Regions from separate parts of the Homo sapiens genome. Here regions 1 and 2 are each linked to region 3. The links come from fine-mapping of genetic effects on gene expression. A gene starts in region 3. Each other region holds a variant in brackets. All regions are shown on one strand. Distances are from middle to middle.

Region 1 (8,180 bases), 74 kb before region 3:
CCCTCTGGGAGAATATGCAAACCACTTTCTGATAACTACATTAGCAGTCCAATGTAACCAAGTAATTACTTCACATAATAGAAACAGAGCTGCATCCTTCTGAAAACACAATGTAAATGTGCCTAGGGATTACACGTGCATCCGATCTGTGCAGACTGAATCCCATTTTAAATGCACTAACAAAACTTGCTCTTAAAGCGACTCTGTTTCAGTTTCTTCTATAATTACTCTCCCATTTACTGACTTCTCAAATGCAGCCTTTGGAATTTGCATTTTCTTTCTTTTTTTTTTTTTGAGACAGAGTCTTGCTGTGTTGCCCAGGCTGGAGTGCAGTGGTGTGATCTTGGCTCACTGCAACCTCTGCCTCCCGGATTCAAGTGATTCTCCTGCCTCAGCCTCTCTAGTAGCTGGGATTATAGGCACATGCCATCATGCCTAGCTAATTTTTGTATTTTTAGTAAAGAAGAGGTTTCGCCATGTTGGCCAGGCTTGTCTTGAACTCCTGACCTCAAGTGATCCGCCCACCTCGGCCTCTCAAAGTGCTGGGATTACAGGTGTGAGCCACCGCGCCTGGCCTTGCATTTTCTAATAGCAAGGCAAAGTCAGAGTTGTGCAGGTTTAGGCACTATAAATTCATTAAACAAATGTTGCTAATGGATGTTCTGTGTTCTAGGCACTGCTGTAGGTCCTGGAATAGTGCACGGAACCAGGCGGATGAAGAACGACGGTGTGCGTGCATGGGTGCGTGTGTGTTCTATATAATGTTTGAGACAATGAGGTCAGTGGCCACCCTCTGATAGACCTGAGGAGAGTGAGGGAGCCGGCCATACAGCTGTCTAGTGGGGAGAGTGGTCCGAAGGGGAGAAACAAGTACAAAGGCCTAAGGCAGGAGGGAGTATTACGTGCAAAGAACAGGAGTCCAGTACATGAGTTAGGGGAAGTAGACAAGTAGAGGGAGATTAAGTTAGAATGGGGCACGTATGTGCATGTATGCTTGGTGTGGGGGTGTGTGTGTAGCGCGTGGTGTGTGTGTGTGTAGTATGTGGAGTGTACGTGAGATGCAGGGCCTTGTAGACCATGGTCAGAGGCTTTGGATTTTACTCTGTGTGAGAAGGGAAATCACTGGGGGATCTTAGGGATAGATATGGTGGAAAGACTGTGTGTGTGTGTGTGTGTGTGTGTGTGTGTGTGTGTGTGTGTGTGTGTCAGAGACAGAGAAAGACAGAGAGAGACAGAGAGAGACAGAGAGAAGAGAGGGACAGGGTTTCACTCTATCACCCAGGCTGGAGTGCAGTGGCATGATCACGACTCACTGCAGCCTCTAACTCGTGGGCTCAGACAAGCCTCCCACCTCGGCCTCCAAAGTGATAGGATTACCTGTGCTTGCCACTGTGCCCAGCCAGAATGATTTCTTTTCCACTGTTTCTATGTTTCAACCCCAAGCAGTGACAATCAGCAAAAACAGGAGAGTCAATGTCAACGTTTTTCACTATTCACTAATTTTCCCTTTCTCTACTCATATAAGGCTTGTGACATTCAAGATTTGACCTCCTTCACTGAAATATTTACAGTTAAAAAACAAACACAAAACCACCAAATTTCTTTCTAGTCATCAACTTCCTAGGAAACAATTAGAAACATTTTCCTCCGGATAACTTCTGCGGTACCTTTACCATGGGGTAATTTTTTTTTTCAGATCAACTTCCAGCTTTTATTTATTGATTTATTGATTTTTATTAACTTTTATTTTAGGTTTGGGGGTACATATGAAGGTCTGTTACAGGAGGTTTGCTGTACAGATTATTTCATCACCCATGCATTAAGCCCACCACCCAACAGTTATCTTTTCACACACGGTAATTCTCACTTCACTCATTTATGCCACTCGCGCAAAAAGCAGTTCTTTATATCTCAAACAGTTCTTTTCTCAGAAGTCTGCAAAACATTACAGAAGGAATGTTTTACCTTTTTAAAATTAATCCTTATCATCACCCCTATAAATACTTAACATATAAATGTATGTCCCAACTACTTCCAAAAAGATTTATAAGACATCGAATCCACTGGGCCAGCAGATGGAGAGAGCGATCCAACCCCTGATGATTCTTTCTTCTATGACATTAGTCTTACCAGGCAAGAAGTGAGTGTTAAAATTGCTTACTTCAGAGTAAAAAAATTCTGGGAAGATCAATGAGAAAGGGGGAAGGATAAAGTACTATTTCTTTGCTGACTGCTCAAAGTAACAAGGTTTTGGCTGGACGCAGTGGCTCACGCCTGTAATCCCAGCAATTTGGGAGGCCGAGGTGGGCGGACCACCTGAGGTCAGAAGTTTGAGACTCTGGGAGGCCGAGGTGGGCAGATCACCTGAGGTGTGGAGTTTGAGACCACTCTGGCCAACATGGTGAAATCCTGTCTCTGCTAAAAATACAAAAATTAGCCAGGTGTGGTGGCATGCACCTGTAATCCCAGCTACTTGGGAGGCTGAGGCACGAGAATTGCTTAAACCCAGGAGGTGGAGGTTGCAGTGAGCCGAGATCGCTCCACTGCACTCCAGCTTGGGTGACAAAGCAAGACTCCGTCTCAAAAAAAAAAAAGTAACAAGGTTTTTTGCTAGCTCATCTTGGCTCTGACCCTACTTAGAAGAACCCTAAGTTCTTCTACTTGTTTACATAGTTATGTCATGTATTTTTACCCATGCTTTGGCATTCTTTTTTATATCAACTAAGAACCTATAAGCTGCCAAAATCTGGATGATCACAGTTCACTGTAACGGCCAACAAGGGACATATCAACTGACTGGGATGGCATTTTGTAATTAAGGAGTGAAATGCTGGCACTTCCCTGCCAAAGGAACCGAGTAGATGCACAGACTCTCGGCAGCAAAAACAGTAGTAAGGAACAAGAACAAACAAGACCTATTTGGGCAGAAATGGAAAAGTGGGTGGCAGCACGGTGCGGTGGTGAACATGAGTCTGGATTCAGGATGCTCAAGTCTGAATGCATTTCTATGATTTTGACCCTCTTGTCTGTCCCCCCGGCCCCCCCGTTCCCCCTGCCACTTCCTCACAGCAGGCTACAGCGAGGAGTAAAGGGGCTGATACATGGACAGAGCTGACACCACATCTGGCGCACAATGCTCCATGAGTATTTGCAGCTATTTTTATACACTTGGTACATTTTATTCCTCCTAGTAGG[G/A]AGAGAATTTAGATCTGAGGCAAGGCTGGGGTGTTAGAAGTCCAGAAAGAGAGGTATTAGTAAAAGCAGCACACAATCTGATACGGTTGTTAGAGAAAGTCACAACTAAATAGGCCAGGGAGAGAGAATTTCTCCCACAGAAAATTTACAGTAAAACAGGTAACACAGCACTTTTACCATGTGGAAACTGGTTCCTAGGAAGGATGCCTGCTTTATTACTATAATCATGCAATAGGATTTTATCTACGTGAAAAAGACACTTTCACCTTTGGGAAATTTACTTGAGAAATGGTGATAAAATGTTCAGCGTAATACAAATATCAACCTTCCTGAATCAATATTCAACCTTGCATCAACATTCCTCTGTCTCTTTACGTATTCTCTAATGATTCTTCTGAACACCATCGAATTGAATGAAGTGTACCTAACTCCTACTGCAGTCTCTATTTATAGCCTGGAGTTATTTTTGAACAGTGCTGGGCACAAACACCAACTCAGTCCACAGGAAACTTCAATTTAAGAGCAAAATTGTAAGACAATGAGTCAGAGGATTAGAAAGAAGGTGCTATTATATTCTCTTGCTCAAAGTCACCTACACAACCCAAGTAGTGCTTTTCACTCGGTTTCCAGGGGTAAACATTCAGCAACATCCGGAACTATGTTTCAGCCTCTGCGGTCATTTCAAAGGCTCTTTAAACAAATGGGGTCTGGCTTCACTGAGGTCCAGGAGGTGCTAAGAGAAATTTAAGGCTAGACATGAAAGCAAAGTCACAGTTATGCAGATGGTATGACCTCATATGTTCTTCGATGGATTGCCCAGACTGAGCTCAATGGGGGTGAACAGGGGGGCGGTGGAGGCTGGGAGGGGGTGGGAAGGGAGCACGCACGCACACACACACACACACACACCTCCCCCAAATCCCAGCCCCTCTCCCGTTACTAAATAGCAGCAATTCATGCAACTGTACTTAAGAAAACATGCCTCAGAGAGTACAAGTTGTCACATCTGGTAGTTCACAATAACATTCTCGCAATAGATAAATGAAGGGTCCCTCATTTTAGATCTAAAGGTGGATAAACTTGATGACTGATCTTTAATCTGTTTTCATGCTTTTGAAAAATGATTATACATAAAGTTTTCCTCCAAACTTGCCAGGCGACAACTCTGAAAATTCTGGGGCCAGACACAGTGACTCACTCCTGTAATCCCAACATTTTGGGAGGCCAAGACGGGCAGATCACTTGAGGTCAGGAGTTCGAGACCAGCCTGGCCAACCTGGCAAAACCCTGTCTCTACTAAAAATACAAAAATTAGCCGGGCATGGTGGCGGGTGCCTGTAATCCCAGCTACTTGGGAGTCTGAGGCAGGAGAATCACTTGAACCCAGGAGGAGGAAGTTGCCGTGAGCCGAGATTGCGCCATTGCACTCCGGCCTGGGCAACAAGAGCAGAACTCTGCCTCAAAAAAAAAAAAAAAAAAGAAAGAAAGAAAGAAAAAAAGAAAATTCTCCTATGTGCTACTTTATCCCATGAGAAGGTCTGAACACATCAATATACTCTGGAGCCCACCTCATTTGACCCTATCCTGCCTGGATTCAAAGCACGCCCCTTGTTAGAGCTTATAGAAGTTAGTTCCTAAGCATCTACGCACATGCAGGGGTAAGACTCCATTCCTCTGATACCTGGACCCAAACTGGACACAAGAAAAATCATCACCACCACCACCACCTTCATCATCACCATCACCATCATCATCATCTTCTTCTTCATCTTCTTCATCACTACTGTCCCCAGAAAGTGCGAGGAAGAGGAAGGAGAAAGGATTGTCGTACATACTACCACAACAAAAGCAAAAAAGGCCATCAGAGAACAAAGAAAAAACAAGACGGGGAGAAGCTTTTGCAACTGCTGTCCTTTTAAATAAACCATACACTAAAACTTTTGGCCACTGACATGCAGAAACATAATTCACCTAAATTATAGAAACACATACAGGTACATTTGAGAGAAGGGGCCACTGGATTAGTGGAATTCTGATACTGCTTCCTTCTAAGAGACTGAACTTACATATAACTAAAACTCAACACGTCAGGACATGAACCGACCCACCCCACTCACCAGAAGTAAAAAACACCAGGCCCAGATTTGCTCCCACACCTGCTTGGTCTGATAGCATTTCAACTACCACTGGCAACAGGACAAAAGGCCAAAAAGGGTTCCTGTGTGCCCCAACTCTCAAAGGGAAGAAAGGGATTCACAATAGAATAGAGCAACCCAAACTTTCCAGCATGATTAGAGCCTGGCAGAAGCATGGACTCAGAGTACGTGCCTACCAAACTAGTTAGCCACACAGGTTAATAACCCAAAACAACAATTTAACAGAGTCAGTGTCACACAGCACTTCTTCCAAACCGTGTTAATCTCCTTTCCCTGCACCGCAAACACACATGCAACTCTCCTGTGGGATAAATACCTAGGAGAGATCCTCAGGGAGGAGGGGCGTCTGCTCGTGGCACTGGGTGAGGCGGGTGGTAGGGGTGGACCCGTGCTGCTGGGCCTCTGTCTGGAACTGCTGGCGGGCACTGCTTGGGGGCTACTGGCGAGGGCAGGGGGACTTGGGGAGCTCGACAGAATGGAGACGCCTGAGGACGCCCATGGGTGAGTGACAGTGTAGGGGCGATACCGCGGGGATGAAGGCTGGCTTCCCGCAGCAGTTCCAGAGGCTGCACTGTGAGGACTGAGGGGAGTGGAAGGCACAGCCAACTGGCTGGCTGCACGGGAAGGTGAGGCAAGAGACGGGCCCATCACGGGAACAGAGCTCCAGAAACTGGGAGTGGGAGCCGGACTACTTTCATAGAGGCTAAATTAGTTGAGAAAGGGAGGAAAGAAGAGAAAAATCAAAGAAAAACTTGAGATAACTAACTAAAACAGAAAATATCAAGCTTTTAAAGGAGAATCATTTCAGTTCAAGTATATCTAGCAGATAAACATCTAAATAATTATAATCTAATTGCCCTATTGATCTAGAGGCTATACTTACAAGACGATAAAGTCCCCATTCGAAGAATGATGTAGTATACACAGCCAACTGCTTCTAAAATTTCATCTAGCAATATCTTAACCATAGAGAGCCAAAAAATAATAATCTAGAAAAGAGAATTCCACTTCCAATGACTAAATCCACCTCCCCAAATATGATATATGCCATACCCTGTATGACACTGATTAACACTGTCAACAAACATTCCCTTCTCCTACGTAGTTCACAGTTATTTTACTACCAGTAAGATGTGCAAAGAGAACCACACTGACCTAGACAAAGAGCTGGCACCAAAGGAAGCCACGCTGCAGAACATGGGGCTTGTTCCTGGATTGGAGCCAGTGTTTAGCAAGAGATTTCTGTCTGGTGACCGTGCTGCTGCAGCAATTGGCTGTGATGTGGCTGTCAGACTGGCAAATGGGTTTTCATCTCTGGTCTGAGTGGACATCATTAGCACTTCCATTAAAATCTGGCCAATCAAGTCCTTAAAATCGGAGAATACTGTTGGAAAGGCAGAACAAAGAACAGGTTACACACAGTTCGAACACAGGTTACACAGCCCTTGAATAAGCCAGCTGACCCCAAATGGTTCGATGCAGTATCCTGGATTAGATTCTGGAATGGTAAAAGGATATTAGTGGAAAACCTAAATAAAGCCTTGTGTTTAGTTAGTAGTAATTTCTTAGTTTTGACAAATGTACCATGGTTATATAAGATATTAACGTCAGGGGAAACTGGGTAAAGTATATATAGGAACTCCCTGCACTAACTGAAACTATTCCAAAATTAAAAGTTTATTAAAAAGAAAGTTGGGGTACAGTCATTGAGAGTTACCGCTGATGTATATTAATTGTAAAAAGAAGCTACTCCCAACTATAGAGGTTACTTTATTATACTACAAATGCAACTGGGTTAATATTTCTTAGTCTAGATATGTTTTATAGATAGTAATAAAACTATTAAGTCCAAGGTTCAAAAGATTTTATGAAGGGTCCAACATCTAGTCACCATGTGGCTTTCAGGAGCAAATGCTACATTCTAGCTTCCTTCTTATTCTTTGCAGCTCCCAGTTGATTTACTGTTGGTCTTTAGATACATTTTAAATACCACTAAACAAAAGTTTTAACTCATGGAAATTTTATCTGATTTGGTTATTTAAAATTGCCACTTACATGTGTAAGACAGAGTTGCCACTTAACATGTGTAAGACACTTGTTTTAACAAAAGTTTTAACTCATGGAAATTTTATCTGATTTGGTTATTTAAAATTGCCACTTACATGTGTAAGACAGATTTGCCACTTACATGTGTAAGACAGAGAATCTTAAGATTTATAATAAGAATAACAAGTAGCAGAGTTTCAAATACATGGTCTGCTCCATTAGCAGAGTTAATAAGTAAAATCAGAAATAGTCTTATCTATCCTCCAGAAATACAAAGGACTTTTTTTTTCCCTCCTCAGAAGATAGGCAGCATAGAAAAGAGAAAGGTGATCTCCTTGATATTCACGCATCCATTTAAAATCTATCTATTGAGGGACTATTTTGTGCAAGATATCCTTCTAGGGATACATCAATGAGTAAAACAGACAAAAATCCCTACCATGAGGGAAGTTACATTCCAGTGATAGGCCAAAAAAACCACTCCAGCACACCTCCCATACCTCTTCTGCGTTCCAAATGACTACTGTAAAGAAAAAGGATAGTGCCCTATGATGCTGATATCTTGCTAAGAGTTTTATTATTTTGTTACAAGCTTGGCCTCTTAAAGTGGAATATCAGAAACACAGCAAAATGTCATTATGTTCTATCTTGCTAAGCAATTTAACCAAATAGACCAATTCCACCGTCTATACATGGCTTCATAGGCACTTAAAGCAGGTATAGCTCATACAGAACACTTCTCTCAGGATCCCTGGAGACCACCCACTATATCTATACTTCATA
Region 2 (8,180 bases), 120 kb before region 3:
TTGAGATGGAGTCTCACTCTGTAGCCCAGGCTGGAGTACAGTGGCAAGATCTTGGCTCACTGCGACCTCCACCTCCCAGGTCCCGGTTCAAGCAATTCCCCAGCCTCAGCCTCCCAAGTAGCTGGCATTACAGGCCCCCACCACCACACCCGGATAATCTTTTGTATTTTTAGTAGAGACAGGGTTTCGCCATGTTGGCCAGGCTGGTCTCAAACTCCTGGCCTCAAGTGATTCACCTGTCTCGGACTCCCAAAGTGCTAGGATTACAGGCGTGAGCCACCACGCCCAGCCTAACTTGAGCATTTTCTAAGCTAGAATACTATCTCTGTGGTGTTAAGAGGAGCTTGTTCCACATACTGATCTTGTGTGTGGCAACTTTTAATTTATATCTGAGGGTCCCATCTGCTCAGGGACCAGGACCTAATCAGCCAGGTCTTCACATGGAGGTGATGAGCACTGGGGACTATGTCTGTGATGCCTCCCTCAGGGGTACCCTCACACCGGTCCCTTAGTAGCTGTAGGAAGACCAGCACAGTAGCCAGGGGGACCTGTGCTAAAGGGCATCTGCGAGGTTGCTGCCACTTGCTAGCCACTGACCTTCAGCAAGCTTCTTGACCCTTTTAAGCTTCAGTTTCCTCATTTGTAAAGTGGATGTATTTATAGTACTATCTTTAGGACTGCCGTGGGGATTAAGTGAAAGGATTAGTAAGCATTCAATAAGTGGTGGCTATTATTAGTACAGATGTCATCCATCTATGACTGAAGAGGTGGTCCAGGCCAGAGGGCACACATGGCAAAGAGGAAAGAGAGAACAACCCCCACCCAATTCCTTCTGGAACATTCCCAGCAGGACTCCACTAGGCCCAGCACTCGTCTTATAGGCAACAGGCCCAGTTCTGTTGTGTAAACACAAATACACAAACACACACACACACACACACACACACTCTCTCTCTCTCTCTCTCTCCTGAAGCCACAGTGACAGGCCCAGAACACTGACTACAAAATAAATTTAACTAAAATTGTTTTGTCTTTACTACTAACAATACATGTTTACTGTAGAAAAATTAAGAAGTTCAGATAATAAAATAAAAATAAAAACTATTTATAATGCTACCATTCAAAAATAACCAATGCGCTGTTACTATTTTGGTATATGTCCTTCCCTACATTCCTTTTTTTTTTTTTTGAGATGGAGATTTGCTCTTGTAGCCCAGGCTGGAGTGCAATGGCACGATCTTGGCTCACTGCAACCTCTGCCTCCCTGATTCAAGTGATTCATCTGCCTTAGACTCCAGAGAAGCTGGGACTATAGGTGTGCACCACTACGCCCAGCTAAATTTTTTTGTATTTTTAGTAGAGACGGGGTTTCACCATTTTGGCCAGACTAAGCCTCCAACTCCTGACCTCAGGTGATCCTCCTGCCTCAGCCTCCCAAAGTGCTGGGATTACAGGCGTGAGTCACTGAGCCCGGCCAGTTGTTTTTATTATTTTCACTGCACTGCTTTATAAATAATGCTGTGGAGAACATCACTTACAAACATTCGTAATTATTTCCATTGAATAAATTTCAAGAAATTAAATTCTTATGTCAGAGTATAGCTATTCAGCTGTTGTCTCGTAGCTCCAAATCCACTCTTTTTTTTTAAAATTTTTTTAGATCTCGGCTAACTACAACCTCCACCTCCCGGGTTCAAGCTATTCTCCTGCCTCAGCTTCTCAAGTTGCTGGGATTACACGCATGCGTCACCCGGCTAATTTTGTTTTGTTTTGTTTTTTGTTTTGTTTTTGAGATGAAGTCTTGCTCTGTCACCAGGCTGAAGTGCAGTAGCGCGATCTTGGCTCATTGCAACCTCTGCCTCCCGGGTTCAAGAGATTCTCCTGCCTCAGCCTCCCGAGTAGCTGGGACTACAGGCACATGCCACCATGTCCAGCTAATTTTTGTTTTTGAGACGGAGTTTTGCTCTTGTTGCCCAGGCTGGATTACAATGGCGCGATCTTGGCTCACCGTAACCTCTGCCTCGCGGGTTCAAGTGATTCTCCTGCCTCAGCCTCCCAAGTAGCTGGGATTACAGGCATGTGCCACCATGCCAGGCTAATTTTGTATTTTTAGTAGAGACAGGGTTTCACCATGTTGGTCAGGCTGGTTTTGAACTCCCGACCTCAGGTGATTCGCCCACCTCAGCCTCCCAAAGTGCTGGGATTACAGCGTGAGCCACTGTGCCAGGCCTAATTTTTGTATTTTTAGTAGAGACGGGGTTTCACCATGTTGGCGAGGCTCATCTCGATCTCTTGACCTTGTGATCCACCCACCTCAGTCTTCCAAAATGCTGGGATTACAGGCGTGAGCCACCACGCCCGGCCTTTTACTTTTAGTAGAGACTAGGATTCACCATTTTGGTCAGGCTAGTCTCGAACTCCTGACCTCAGGTGATCCACTGCCTTGGCCTCCCAAAGTGCTGGGATTACAAGTGTAAGCTACTGTGCCTGGCCGAAACCCAGTCTTTTTACCCTTTTTTTTTTTTTTTTTTTTTTTTTTTTAGAAACAGGGTCTTGCTTTGTTTCACAGGCTGGAACGCAGCAGCAAGATCATAGCTCACTGCAGCCTTGAACTCCTGGGCTCAAGCCTTCCTCCCACCTCTGCCTCCTTAGTAGCTGGGACAACAGGCATCTAATTTTTAAATTTTTCGTAGAGATGGGGTCTCGCCATGTTGCCCAGGCTGGTCTCCAACTCTTAGGCTCAAACAATCCTCCCACCTTGGCCTCCTAAAGTGCTAGGATTATTAGCTGGAGTCACCGTGCCCAGCCCACATGCACTCTTTGTAGTTGGCTTTGTGATTCTGGGGCTGGCACTGCAGAATCTTTCCTTTGGCAGCCCGCCCTCTCTAGGGTTGCCAATAGGGGGTGCTGCAGGAGAACTGGAAAACTGAAGGAGAAACAAGGGACTTAGGACCTTGCACTTACTGTCAGCAGTAGCAGTTGGTTCCAATTTTCAGCTTTGTCTCGTACCCCCAGAGCTAGCAACCGTGCACAACCCCCGAGAGAGACACCAGCACCTACTGGCCAAGGGCCTTCCACAGAGGACTGGGTCCTAGCTCCGTCCAAGCCCTCATCAGGGCAGCTGGGTTCTGAGATCCCCAGGCTCTTCCCTTGGGTCCCCAGACTGAGGGATAGAAGATGGCTACTTCCTGCACCTACTATTTGTTATCCCAGTGCTTTTTTTTTTTCTTTTTTGAGACGGAGTCTTGCCCTTTCTCCTAGGCTGGAGCACACTGGTGTGATCTCAGTTCAATGCAACCTCTGCCTCCTAGGTTCACTCGATTCTCGTGCCTCGGCCTCCTGAGTAGCTGGGATGACAGGCGCCGCCCGCCACACCCAGCTAATTTTTGTATTTTTAGTAGAGACGGGGTTTCTCCATGTTGGCCAGGCTGGTCACAAATTCCTGATCTCAGGTGATCCACCCGCCTCGGCCTCCCAAAGTGCTGGGATTACAGGTATGAGCCACCGCACCTGGCCCCGATAAAAGCATTTTTAAGGCTCTTGGTGTGGGCTGCTAAACTGCCTTTCAGAAAGGCTTTAAATTTGCATTCTCATGAGAGTTTCATAGCACTAAATCTGCACACTGGCTATAGGGTAGATTAAGCAGGTTTTTTTGCAGGTTAGCTTACTTCTCCACAACCATGTTTGTACCAGGTATTTTCAACTTAAGAAATAAATTTGACAGGTGAAAAGTGGTATTATTATTATTATTATTATTATTATTATTATT[ATTT/T]GAGACGGAGTCTTGTTCTCTTGCCCAGGCTGGAATACAGTGGCGGGATCTCGGCTCACTGCAACTTCTGCCTCCCGGGTTCAAGCAATTCTCCTCCCTCAACCGCCCTGGGACTACAGGCACCTGCAACCATGCCCGGCTAATTTAATTTTTTTTTCTATTTTTAGTAGAGATGGGGTTTCACCATACTGGCCAGGCTGGTCTTGAACTCCTGACCTTGTGATCCGCCCGCCTCGGCCTCCCAAAGTGCTGGGATTACAGGCATGAGCCACCGCACCCGGACCAAGAATATGCATTTTTAACAAGCTCCCTGTTTCACCCACACTTTGGAAAGTGGGTTATAGGATAGTGTTAAAAAACAAATGCTGTAAGTTCAAAGGTAAAATGAACCAGATAATTCCATTCAGATAACACTACCAACTTGTGCTCTTGATACCCTGGGTCTCGGTGCCAATCATCTGACTTTCAGTAGTTCCTGCTGAATCATCAGAGACCAGTAGGTGGAATGGTTGTCCTATTCCTAACTACTCAGGGCAAGAAGAACCAAAAGTACATCCTCTGCAGGCCACAGGTTAGTAGGCTATACACACAGGTAGCAGGATATTAGGTAACAGGCTTAGAGCAACGTCGTCCACTAGCTTTAGATGACCTTACCTAAGTTGGCCTGCCATGTGCTACACTGTGTTCCAGCAACCTACCTGTATAAAACTTCATCAGGGAAGGTACCAACAACTTGGTGGAGAGAGGATGGTTCTCAATCATTTCAAAAAACTTCTGGGTTCGTGGCTGAACAGCAGGGTTGGTCATAAACATGACTTCTACCAGTTTGGCCACCAAATATGGGTTTCGGATGTAGTTCTGGTTGCACAACATCACAACAAGGAACATCACAATATCCTGAGTACAGGGCTCATAAAGCGCCTGGGGAGAGTATCTGAACAGAGGCAAGAAGAGCAAGAAAGAGACCGCTGAGAAACTGCTGAGAAACTCATCTTGGGTGAAGGCTGGTGTCAGTAAGTGAGGAGGGGAAGGCAGGATAAGTAGGTTTGGGAGTGCCCTTGAACTCATTCAGTTTACAGTGACTTTTTTTTTTTTTTGAGACAGAGTCTCGCTCTGTCGCCCAGGCTGGAGTGCAGTGGCGCGATCTCGGCTCACTGCAAGCTCCGCCTCCCAGGTTCACGCCATTCTCCTGCCTCAGCCTCCCGAGTAGCTGGGACTACAGGCACCTGCCACCATGCCCGGCTAATTTTTTTTGTATTTTTAGTAGAGATGGGGTTTCACCATGTTAGCCAGGATGGTCTCGATCTCCTGACCTCGTGATCCGCCCGCCTCGACCTCCCAAAATGGTGGGATTACAGGCATGAGCCACTGCGCCCAGCCTATTTTTTTTTTTTTTTCTTGAGATGGAGCCTCGCTGTGTTGCCCAGGCTGGAGTGCAGTGGCACAATCTCGGCTCACTGAAACCTCCGCCTCCAAAGTTCAAGCGATTCTCCTGCCTCAGCCTCCTGAGTAGCTGGGACTACAGGTGCCTGCCACCATGCCCAGCTAACTTTTGTATTTTTAGTAGAGATGGGGTTTCACCATGTTGGCCAGGATGGTCTTGATCTTTTGACCTCGTGATTTGCCCACCTTGGCCTCCCAAAGTGCTGGGATTACAGGCATGAGCCATTGCACCCAGCCTACAGTGACTATTCACACTGTAACAAGACAGATTTAAAACCAAACATGGTTACTGGCTGTAGCATGTTATATTAACTATAAACAAAACCTATGATCAAATCAGATAAACTTCACAAAAGATCATCACTACCAAAACATAAAAATTTTGATAGTTTTTTTTTAATCTCTGCTGAAAATGAGAATAAATGAAATTTTTCAAATAGGTGTCTTTTGTATCACTGTGCATAGAACAAATTTTAAAATGTGACTTGAGTTGCTTAAATTCCAAGGTTGGTTTTTCAACAAATAAACCACGTTTTTGAGTCACTTTTAAAATTTCATACCAATCAAAATCACGTGTCACCAATGATTTGGGTTTTTTTGTGTATGTTGCCCAGGTTGGAGTGTAGTGGCATGATCTCTGCTCATTGCAACCTCTGCCTTGATTTGGGCTTTTTTTTAAAGGCAGCTTTTATGACAGCAATATTAACTTGCTCCATTTACTTTTGGCCCTTATTTTAAAATCATTTATACTAATTTTGTTTTTTTCCTGTTGTTTGTTACAAAACTTTCACAATTTGTATTCTGTGACTGGGGACCTATACTATTTATTTATTTATTTTTTAAAGAGATGCAGACTTGCTGCATTGCCCAGACTGGTCTTGAACTAGGCTCAAGCAATCCTCCTGCATGTCTGGGACTACAAGCATGAGCCACAGTGCCCAGCATGACTTTTACTTTTCACAATAGACTTCACATACCACTCCCTCAGCTAGTCATAGGTGCTATCATGGTGCCAAGGGATTGAAATTGTAATTCTTCTAACCTGTAATGTTTTAGAAATAAAATGTTAATTTGATAAACCAAATAAGGATTTGAAAAAAAAATTAAAACCCTACAATACCAGTTAGAAATTCAAACCATTTCTTGGTAAGCATTCTCCAATTTTACAATTGAGACAAATTTTAGTACAAAATATAGATGTGGATATTTCTGGTTTTGGGATGTTCATTCAGACATTTATAAACTGTTTCCTCCTTCTGTTGCTCAGAAACACATATTTAACTATTAGAAATTCAACTCAATTTTCAAGGAATACATTATCTGCACTGTTAATCCTGCCTCTGTCTTTGAGATATTATTGGAATTGGACTGATGCCACAGTTGGATTTATTTTTTCCAGTCTCTAGGCAGCATTCAGTTAAAACAGTTACATCAAATTTCAGGCATGAAATGGAGGTTTGCAACATAGCTCAGAATATTATACTATTATGCATAAAAACATATTAGAACTATGTAAAATATTAAAGGCACTTACTGTACAATAAAAAATAAAAATTCTGCAACATCTTCTACATAAAACTCAGGCAACGCTGCAAATACCTTGGGGACATCTGAATTTAAAGGCAGTGTTATACTGTCAAAGAGAAAAAAAGGACAATTTATTAAATGAAATTATGGTACATCAAACTACAAGGAGTATTACATTACCATCGGATAAGTATTTCATTTGGGGAAGAAAATCATTCTGTAATACTATGTAATAAATATGTAGGCAAAGAAACTACAACCAGAAATGAACAGGGAATAATGAAGACAGTGCATATGCAAGGGTATGTGTGAAATGTTTTCCTTTTCTTGATTTCTTTTTTTTCTCCCCTGAGATGGAGTCTCACTCTGTCACCCAGGCTGGAGTGCAGTGGTGCAATCTTGGCTCACTGCAACCTCCACCTCCCCAGTTCAATCGATTATCATGTCTCAGCCTCCCGAATAGCTGAGATTACAGGCACGTGCCACCATACCTGGCTAATTTTTGTATTTTCAATAGAGACAGGGTTTCACCATGTTGGCCAGGCTGGTCTCGAACTCCTGACCTCAAGTGATCCACCCATCTTGGCCTCCCAAAGTGCTGGGATTACAGGTGTGAGCCACCACACCTGGCCCTTTTCTTGATTTTTTTTTTTTTTTTGAGACAGAGTCTCACCCTGTCACCCAGGCTGGAGTACAGTGGCGTGATCTCGGCTCACTGCAACCTCTGCCTCCTGGGTTCAAGCAATTCTTGTGCCTCAGCCTCCCGAGTAGCTGGGATTACAGGCGCCCACCACCACACCTGGCTAATTTTTGTATTTTTAGTAGAGACGGTGTTTCACCACGTTGGCCAGGATGGTCTCGAACTCCTGACCTCAAGTGATCCGCCTGCCTCAGCCTTCCAAAGTACTGGGATTACAGACGTGAGCCACCACGCCCAGCCTTCTTGACTTCTTGCTAAGGTTAATGCAATAAGTAAAATGGGAAGGAAATAAAAAGGTCCTATTTGGTCATTTTGTGCAACTCAAACGGAAACAACAGAGCTACACACATTTTTTTTTTTTTTTGAGATGGAGTCTTGCTCGTCACCCAGGCTGGAGTGCAGAGACGTGATCTCCGCTCACCGGAAGCTCCGCCTCCCAGGTTCACGCCATTCTCCTGCCTCAGCCTCCCGAGTAGCTGGGACTACAGGCACCCGCCACAGCGCCCAGCTAATTTTTTGTATTTTTAGTAGAGACGGGGTTTCACCGTGTTAGCAAAGATGGTCTCGATCTCCTGACCATGTGATCCACCCGCCCTGGCCTCCCAAAGTGCTGGGATTATAGGCGTGAGCCACCGCACCCGGCCTACACACATATTTTAAATAATATTTTCCACGCCTTCACGGGTCTTGGGCCAATCTCACCAACATCAGTGAACCAGAGACTTCATAACAGTAAAA
Region 3 (8,180 bases):
CTCATGCCTGTAATCTCAGCACTTTGGGAGGCCAAGGCGGGTGGATCACTTGAGCCCAGGAGTTTGAGACCAGCCTGGGCAACATGGTGAAACCCTGTCTCTAGAAAAAAATACAAAAATTGGCCAGGTGTGGTGGCATGAGCCTGTAGTCTCAGCTTGGGAGGCTGAGGTGGGAGGATCACTTGAGCCCAGGAGGCAGAGGTTGCAGTGAGCCAAGATCATGCCATTGCATTCCAGACTGGGCGATAGAGCCAGACCCTATCTCAAAAATAAACACACCACCTACTCACAGCACCACCTTGAGATACGAAAAACAACACATGAGTAGATTATAGAATTAATATAATGTAAATAATGATGCCTTGGAATGTAGGTTCCTGAAGAGAATGAACTTAGTCATGGTTCTGCAATGAACCTATAGGCAGTGAACTATAGGGCAATGAACTCACTGTAATACACTATATAAATAACAAACAACAGTGAAGTTAAAGTACTCTACTTAAAAGCACAAGACTACCGGGCACAGTGGCTCATGCCTGTAATCCCAGCACTTTGGGAGGCCGAGGCAGGCAGATCACCTGAGGTCAGGAGTTCAAGACCAGCCTGACCAACATGGAGAAACCCCGTCGCTACTAAAAATACAAAATTAGCCGGGTATGGTGGCGCATGCCTGTAATTCCAGCTACTTGGGAGGCTGACGCAGGAAAATCGCTTGAACCCGGGAGGCAGAGGTTGCAATGAGCCAAGATCGCGCCATTGCACTCCAGCCTGGGCAACAAGAGCGAAACTCTGTCTCACAAAAAAATTTAAAAAGCACAAGAATTCTAGGTGATCTATGACAGGGACCAAAAAGTGCACATAATTTAAAAGTTCCTAAAGCTACCAGTCTGGTTATACCAGCCTTTTTCACGGACTGTATAATCATACATTTTCATTTTGTTAAAATATGAAACTCTGCCTTACCTAATTTCCTAAATTAGATTAAAAGATCACCGCCTTGCCTGTTTTAACCCTGAAATATAAGCTTGAAGTTTCAATAATATAAGTGTATTATTTTGTAATCAAATCAATGTCACCTACCATATCTGACACAAGTTTTCAACTACAGAGTAACAATACAAAGGCAAAAGCTTTGGAAATGTCTCATGAGAACTGCTTACCTAACCTCAAAAATTTTTAATTGAATTAAAAAGAAAAACTTCAAAGATATTTTTCCCAAAATAACTATTTGTCTGGCTCCCACTTTGGGAGGCTGAAGTGGGAGGATCGCTTGAGGTCAGGAGTTTGAGACCATCCTGGGAAACATGGCAAGACCCCCGTCTCTACAAAAAAAAAAAAGATTTTTTAAATTAAAAACAAACGAATATTATTTGTTCTAGGTTCTGCTGAGAGTAAAATTAACAGTTATTGAACCAGCCCTTTGTGTTCTGGACAACTAATTTGTTGAAGATAATTTTACATTGATCCTGTATTAGTGAATTTAATTTTTTTCATTTATTTTAATATTCTGTTGACCTTGAAAAAAGTTTATTCTATTTCTTCCACAAAGGTTACATGTGTTCCTCATATGGTCACAAAAAAAAGTTACACCTTCCTCAAGGACTGATGAAAGTGAAGAGACACATTTTAGATTATACAATATCTTCACTGGTCTGTAATGCCTCACTGGTTTGAAAAGAATTTTTTGGTGAAAACTCAAGTATGCAAAAGCCTCTAAACCAAGGACTATTAACAGATCATCAAAAAAAAAAAAAAAAAGTAATTTATAGGAGTAAAGGACTACTAAAAAACTACCTCGGCCGGGCGCGGTGGCTCACACCTGTAATCCCAGCACTTTGGAAGGCCGAGGCGGGCGGATCACGAGGTCAGGAGATTGAGACCATCCTGGGCTAACACGGTGAAACCCCGTCTCTACTAAAAACACAAAAAATTAGCCGGGCGTGGTGGCGGGCGCCTGTAGTCCCAGCTACTCGGGAGGCTGAGGCAGGAGAATGGCGTGAACCCGGGAAGCGGAGCTTTGCAGTGAGCTGAGATCGCGCCACTGCACTCTAGCCTGGGCAACAGAGCGAGGCTCCGTCTCAAAAAAAATAAAATAAAATAAATAAAAAATAAAAAAAAATAAAAAAACTATCTCTGGCCGGTCACGGTGGCTCACGCCTGTAATCCCAGCACTTTGGGAGGCCGAGGCGGGCAGATCACAAGGTCAGGAAATCGAGACCATCCTGGCTAACACAGTGAAACCCCGTCTCTACTAAAAACACAAAAAAATACAAAAAACTAGCCGGGAGTGGTGGCGGGCGCTTGTAGTCCCAGCTACTCCGGAGTCTGAGGCAGGAGAATGGCGTGAACCCGGGAGGCAGAGCTTGCAGTGAGCTGAGATAGCGCCACTGCACTCCAGCCTGGGCGACAGAGCGAGACTCCGCCTCAAAAAAAAAAAAAAAAAAAAAAAAACAGTATCTCTGCCTTAAGAGAAATTACTCACTAGAATTAACATTAATGAAAAACGGGGGAGGTAGAGAAACTTTTAAAAAACCACATAAAACAGGCCAGGCGCGGTGGCTCACGCCTGTAATCCCAGCACTTTGGGAGGCTGAGGCGGGTGCATCACGAGGTCAAGAGATGGAGACCATCCTGGCCAACATGGTGAAACCCCATCTCTACTAAAAATACAAAAAATAGCCGGGCGTGGTAGCGGGCGCCTGTAGTCCCAGCTACTCAGGGGGCTGAGGCAGGAGAATGGTGTGAACCCGGGAGGCGGAGCTTGCAGTGAGACGAGATCGCGCCACTGCACTGCAGCCTGGGCGACAGAGCAAGACTCCGTCTCAAAAAAACAAACAAACAAAAAAAAACCCACATAAAATAAAGCGATTCTAAGGAGATTTCCTACCGAATGAAAGAAACTGTGTAATATTCTCTTCACTTAAGATTACATTTCTGCTGTATTCGAAAAAAACAAAGTAACGCCGAATGGGCAGTCCTGATTTTCCAAACCAAGTATCCAAGTATCACAATCAACAAAATCATTTGCTTCCTTTCCTACCTGACCCTTAACACACCACTGCGTGTCCTATCCCAGGAGAATTTCAGTCCCTAAGTAAACACACTAAGTACTCTGTAGCTAAAACTGGAGCATGGAAGTCTTGTAGTACAATCAACTTGATGGATGACTGCTTTCCTAATACTGTAGGGAAGTTTACATGATGAACCAGTGAAGAAATGTGGAGGTAGGCTAAAGAGGGTATGGCCAGTAGGGGTCCTGAAAGGGAAGCTCCTAATTTGCAAAAAGGAAGAGAAAAGGCAGTAGAATCATAGGAAATTCCTTGTACCCTAATTGCCACTGCTTTTTGGTTGTTTTTTTTTTTACAACAACCTAATTTATTAAACAATCTTTAAAACATCAAGAAGTAGATCTGTATAACTCCTTTAAGAAATGAGAACAGGAGAGAGTTTAGAAAGTCATTTGCTTCCACTTGCTTCCCGTTCAGTCTCTGCTACAGCAAAACACAAGTTTGAAAGATTCAAGAAGTAGGAAAAGATAGAATGTAACAGAAGAATGCCAGAAGTCATTAGTGGTCTATTAAGTACCAGAATATAACTGGAATTCTCTAAACTGTGGAGAAGATACATATTTTGTTAAATATCAAAGAATCTGTCTGTAAACCACCCCTCAAGCAAAAATATATGTTTAATCAAGCTTATACAGTGCAATAACCACACATATCTGGAATTTCAAATGCTTTCTTTAAAAATATTCACCCACCATACATTCTCATTCCATCCAAAATTGTTCTTTAAATTCCTGAAGACACAGACACACACACACTTTAACTTCATGTAAATCTCGCCCTTCTTGTTCGCATACCCTGAAGAAAAGAATAAACACCTCAAGATGCTCTCTCCTCTTGTTCATACCCTAAAAGAACACTCGGAAAGAAGCAAATGGAGTTCAGAATGAAGAAAGAAGGCAACAGAATAAAGGAGAACAAAACCAGAGACCCTATCGGGGAGTCACGTTATTCTTGGAAAATATCATCTCCGTTCCTTCTCCAAGCCCAAAGGCCAGACAGCACTGGCGCAATACCATCCCTGTCCAAAGCGCTAACGAGTTGCCAACTAATCCCTCAAGGTGTCCCCCAACCTCCTCACCTCATCAGCGCTCAGCTCCTCCATCGCTTTCCTCTTAATGGTGAAAGGCGTTAAGGAGAGATCCTTCTGTTCTCGAGACCACGGCGGGAGGAAGGAGAGTGGAAGGTGTCTATCAGGCTGTCTGGTCCCCCGAATGGGGGAGGTTTCAGAATTGCATAGTCAGAGGTTAAAAAATAAGAACACGAGAGGCACTAAACTGCCTTGGCTTCGGTCACTCCAGTCGCCCCACAGACTACTACAGCCGCTTGTTCCCTGAGCAGCCTCCTTTGGCCGCCACTGCTGCTGCTACAGGGTTGTCTTAAGGCGCCACTTATTACCCTCTGCTTCCCAGGTTACCCAGCTAGGCAGCGCGGTCTCCAGTTCGTCTCGTGCCCCGAGCCTGCTGTTTCTTCGTGATAGTGGCGCGGTAGCTGCGTTCCTACAGCAGATCCTGCTCTCCTTCCTACCCTTTGCTCCTGGCGGGAACTGGTCGACTGCAGAGTGGATACCCCGAGGTAAGGCGACCCCACAGCCGTCCTGGCAGAGCCCAGCACTGTAAGGGAAGCCCCTCCCCTCCCAAAGCAGGCCGGCCACGCCCCGCCTCCACGCCGGAGCCCGGGTAGGGGGGAGGGGGAGGATGGGATGCGCGTAGCTCTCGCTGGAAGAGTAAATCCTCCTACCCCTCCACCCCTACTCTTTCCCCCTCGCCCCACCAAGTATTATTCATCAAAACAACAGGGCGGCCATCTTTGAAAGGGATCACGTGACCCCCGTCAGGGAGGCGGGGCTTCTGGCGCCGGGACGTGGCAGCCAATAGGCCGCGGGCGCCGCGCCGCCGAGTTCCTCTCGCCTGCGTCCTCTCCCCGCCTCCGTCCCACCCCGTCCCGCGCAGCCGCGCCGGACGTGGGGAGGGGCAAAGGGAGGCTGGCGGCTGGGCGGGGCGTTGCCACGGCGACCGCGCTGGGGCTGCGGGCGCGGCGGGCCTGAGCCAGGTAGGCTGGCAAGGGGAGGGACGACTCCCAGACTCGCGTCGGGGAAGATCCACCAGAAGGTGGCGCTGGCCCGCGGCCCGGGGGCCCGCCGCGCCTCCGTTGTTCCCAATCGCCTGCTTTTCTGTGACTTGGGGGCCTAGAAACACCTCATCGCTCCCACTGGACTGTGCGCGCCCGCCGCCTAAGCGAGGGAAAAGAAAACGGAAAACGTCTCCTTGACCCCGGGAGCGTGATCTACCGTATTGAGCGCTCATTTTCTGAAACATCTGCCACACACTCTTCCACCTCCTCCAGGAAAGCCCAGTTGGAAGAAAACTCGAACACAAGAACTCCCATTCATTTTATTTTACCTTGGCCTTTTAGAGATACTTCCTGGGTTTTTTTTTTTTTAAGTGTGTTCAAAAAGTATTGGTAAAATTTGAAAGTATAAATGGATGAGAGACCCAAATCACTGAATTGTACACAGCAAATGCAAGGAAGACGTTTGGAGTCAGTGGGGGAAAACCATCCTCCGGTGCACAAGAATACAAATATTTGGCCGGGCGCGGTGGCTCACGCCTGTAATCCCAGCACTTTGGGAGGCCGAGGCGGGCGGATCACGAGGTCAGGAGATCGAGACCATCCTGGCTAACACGGTGAAACCCCGTCTCTACTAAAAAATACAAAAAATCAGCCAGATGTGGCGGCGGGCGCCTGTAGTCCCGGCTACTCGGGAGGCTGAGGCAGGAGAATGGCGTGAACCCGGGAGGCGGAGCTTGCAGTGAGCCGAGATCGCGCCACTGCACTCCAGCCTGGGCGACAGAGCGCGACTCCATCTCAAAAAATATATATATATGTATGTATATATATATTTATAAAATATAAATCTAAGTTGAGCGATCAAAGTAACAGTACCATGAAATTCCAGATTTTGCCGCTGACGAAGACTATAAGTGGATTGGATGGCTCACTAAGCCATAAAGACTGCATTCCAGAATTAAGAGTTACAATGTATTTGCTACATGCTTAAAATAGGAACCTGACTACTAGATATGTAAGGAATTTGTGAGTAAAAATATGTAAGGAATTTGTGAGTAAAAATAAATCACTGCTGGCTTTGCATATTATCTGCTCTCCAGGAAAGGAATTCTGTGTAAGCCAGAACTTGAACCCCTGGTGACATTGATGTTAAAAGTTTACTTTTTTTAACCTCATTATTGCCATCTAATTTACATACCATACAATTCACCCAATTAAGGTGTACAGTGGTTTTATTATGTTCACAGTTCAGTCATCCTCACTGTCCAATTTCAGAACATTTTCATCATCCCAAAAAGAAACCCTCAAAGCCATTAACAGTCACTCCCGGGCTGGGCGCAGTGGCTCACGCCTGTAATCCCAGCCCTTTGGGAGGCCAAGGCGGGTGGATCAAGAGGTCCGGAGTTTAAGACCAGCCTGGCCAAGATGGTGAAATACAAAATACAAAAATTAGAAGGGCGTGGTGGCGGGCACCTGTAATCCCAGCTACTTGGGAGTCTGAGGCAAAGAATTGCTTGAACCCGGGAGGCAGAAGTTGCAAGGAGCCGAGATCGTGCCACTGCACTCCAGCCTGGGCAACAGAGCGAGACTCCGTCACAAAAAAAAAAGACTCCTGCAGGATAACTACCTTCTGTCTTGGTGAATTTGCCTATTCTGGACATTTCACATCAGTGGAGCAATACACCGTGTGGCCTTTGGGGTTTGGCTTCCTTCACTTAGCATATGTTTTCAAGGTTCACGCATATTGTAGCATATATCTGTACTTCATTTCTTTAATGCCAAATGTATCACTGTATTGCTGTAGCGCATTTTGTTTATCAATTCATAGTGATATTTGGGTTGTTTCCACCTTTTGACAATTATGAGTAATGCTGCTATAAACATTCATGTACAAGTGTTTGTTTGGACATATGTTTTTATTTTTATTCCTTTTAGGCATATACCTAGGAGAGGAATTGCAGGATTACATGTTTGACTTTTTGAGAAACTGTCAAACTGTTTTCCAAAGCAGCTGCACTGCCACCAGCAATGTGTGAGGGTTCTAACTTCTCTACATCTCTACCAACAATGGTTTTTGTCTGTCTTTTTTATTGTAGCCACACCAGTAGATGTGAAATGGTATCTCTTTGTGGTTTTGTTTTTCATTTTCCTAGGAGCTAATGATGTTGAACATCTGCTTAGGTTTATCTTCTTTGGACAAATACCTATTCATTCATATTCTCTGTTCTTTTTTTTTTTTTTTTTTTTTTTTGAGATGGAGTCTTGCTCTGTCACCAGGCTGGAGTGCAGTGGCGCGATCTCAGCTCACTGCAACCTCCACCTCCCAGGTTCAAGTGATTCTCCTGCCTCAGCCTCCCAAGTAGCTGGGCCTACAGGCGCCCACCAGCATGCCTGGCTAATTTTTGTATTCTTAGTAGAGATGAGATTTCACCACGTTGGCCAGGATGCTCTCGTGGATCTCTTGACCTCGTAATCCGCCCACCTCCGCCTCCCAAAATGCTGGGGTTACAGGCATGAGCCACTGTGCCCGGCTTTTTCTCTTTCTTTTCTTTTTTCTTTTTTTTAAGACAGAATCTTGCTCTGTCACCCAGGCTGGAGTGCACTGACACAATCTCGGCTCACCGCAACCTCTGCCTCCTGGGTTCAAGCGCTTCTCCTGCCTCAGCCTCCCGAGTAGCTGGGATTACAAGCATGGGCCACCACGCCCGGCTAATTTTTGTATTTTTAGTAGAGACAGGGTTTTGCCATGTTAGCCAGGCTGATCTCAAACTCCTGACCTCAAGTGATCCACCCACATCGGCCTCCCAAAGTGCTGGAATTACAGGCGTGAGCCACTGCACCTGGCCCTCTGTTTTTTTGTGTGTGTTTTTGTTTTTTTGTTTTGTTTTTCTTTTTCCCTCTGTTCATTTTTAATTGGGTTGTCTTCTTTTTTTTTTCTTTTTTTTTATTTATTTTTTTTATTGATCATTCTTGGGTGTTTCTTGCAGAGGGGGATTTGGCAGGGTCATAGGACAATAGTGGAGGGAAGGTCAGCAGATAAACAAG

What was found. PIP is the estimated chance that this variant, and not a neighbour inherited with it, causes the effect. A credible set is the group of variants that fine-mapping cannot tell apart.
Region 1: its variant is the best candidate, but not a certain one, in a credible set for the expression of UBE4B in whole blood (TOPMed, PIP 0.50).
Region 2: its variant is the best candidate, but not a certain one, in a credible set for the expression of UBE4B in whole blood (INTERVAL, PIP 0.55).

The regions. Positions count from the first base shown.
Region 1 is chr1:10,104,071-10,112,250 of GRCh38, reverse strand. UBE4B (ubiquitination factor E4B) reads right to left here. Exons shown (of 28, transcript NM_001105562.3): 6 at 6,507-6,735; 7 at 5,668-6,054. Among named protein-coding and RNA genes, the nearest start is that of UBE4B, 75 kb to the right of the region's middle. RefSeq lists an enhancer at 3,027-3,527. The variant G/A (reference allele first, on the strand shown) is at 3,196.
Region 2 is chr1:10,147,852-10,156,031 of GRCh38, reverse strand. UBE4B (ubiquitination factor E4B) reads right to left here. Exons shown (of 28, transcript NM_001105562.3): 20 at 6,750-6,848; 21 at 4,471-4,706. Among named protein-coding and RNA genes, the nearest start is that of KIF1B, 59 kb to the left of the region's middle. RefSeq lists a silencer at 678-879. The variant ATTT/T (reference allele first, on the strand shown) is at 3,770.
Region 3 is chr1:10,029,661-10,037,840 of GRCh38, reverse strand. UBE4B (ubiquitination factor E4B) reads right to left here and starts at 4,883. Exons shown (of 28, transcript NM_001105562.3): 1 at 4,147-4,883. The coding sequence starts at 4,170. RefSeq lists enhancers at 4,016-4,065, 4,457-5,111 and silencers at 4,626-4,845, 4,876-5,265.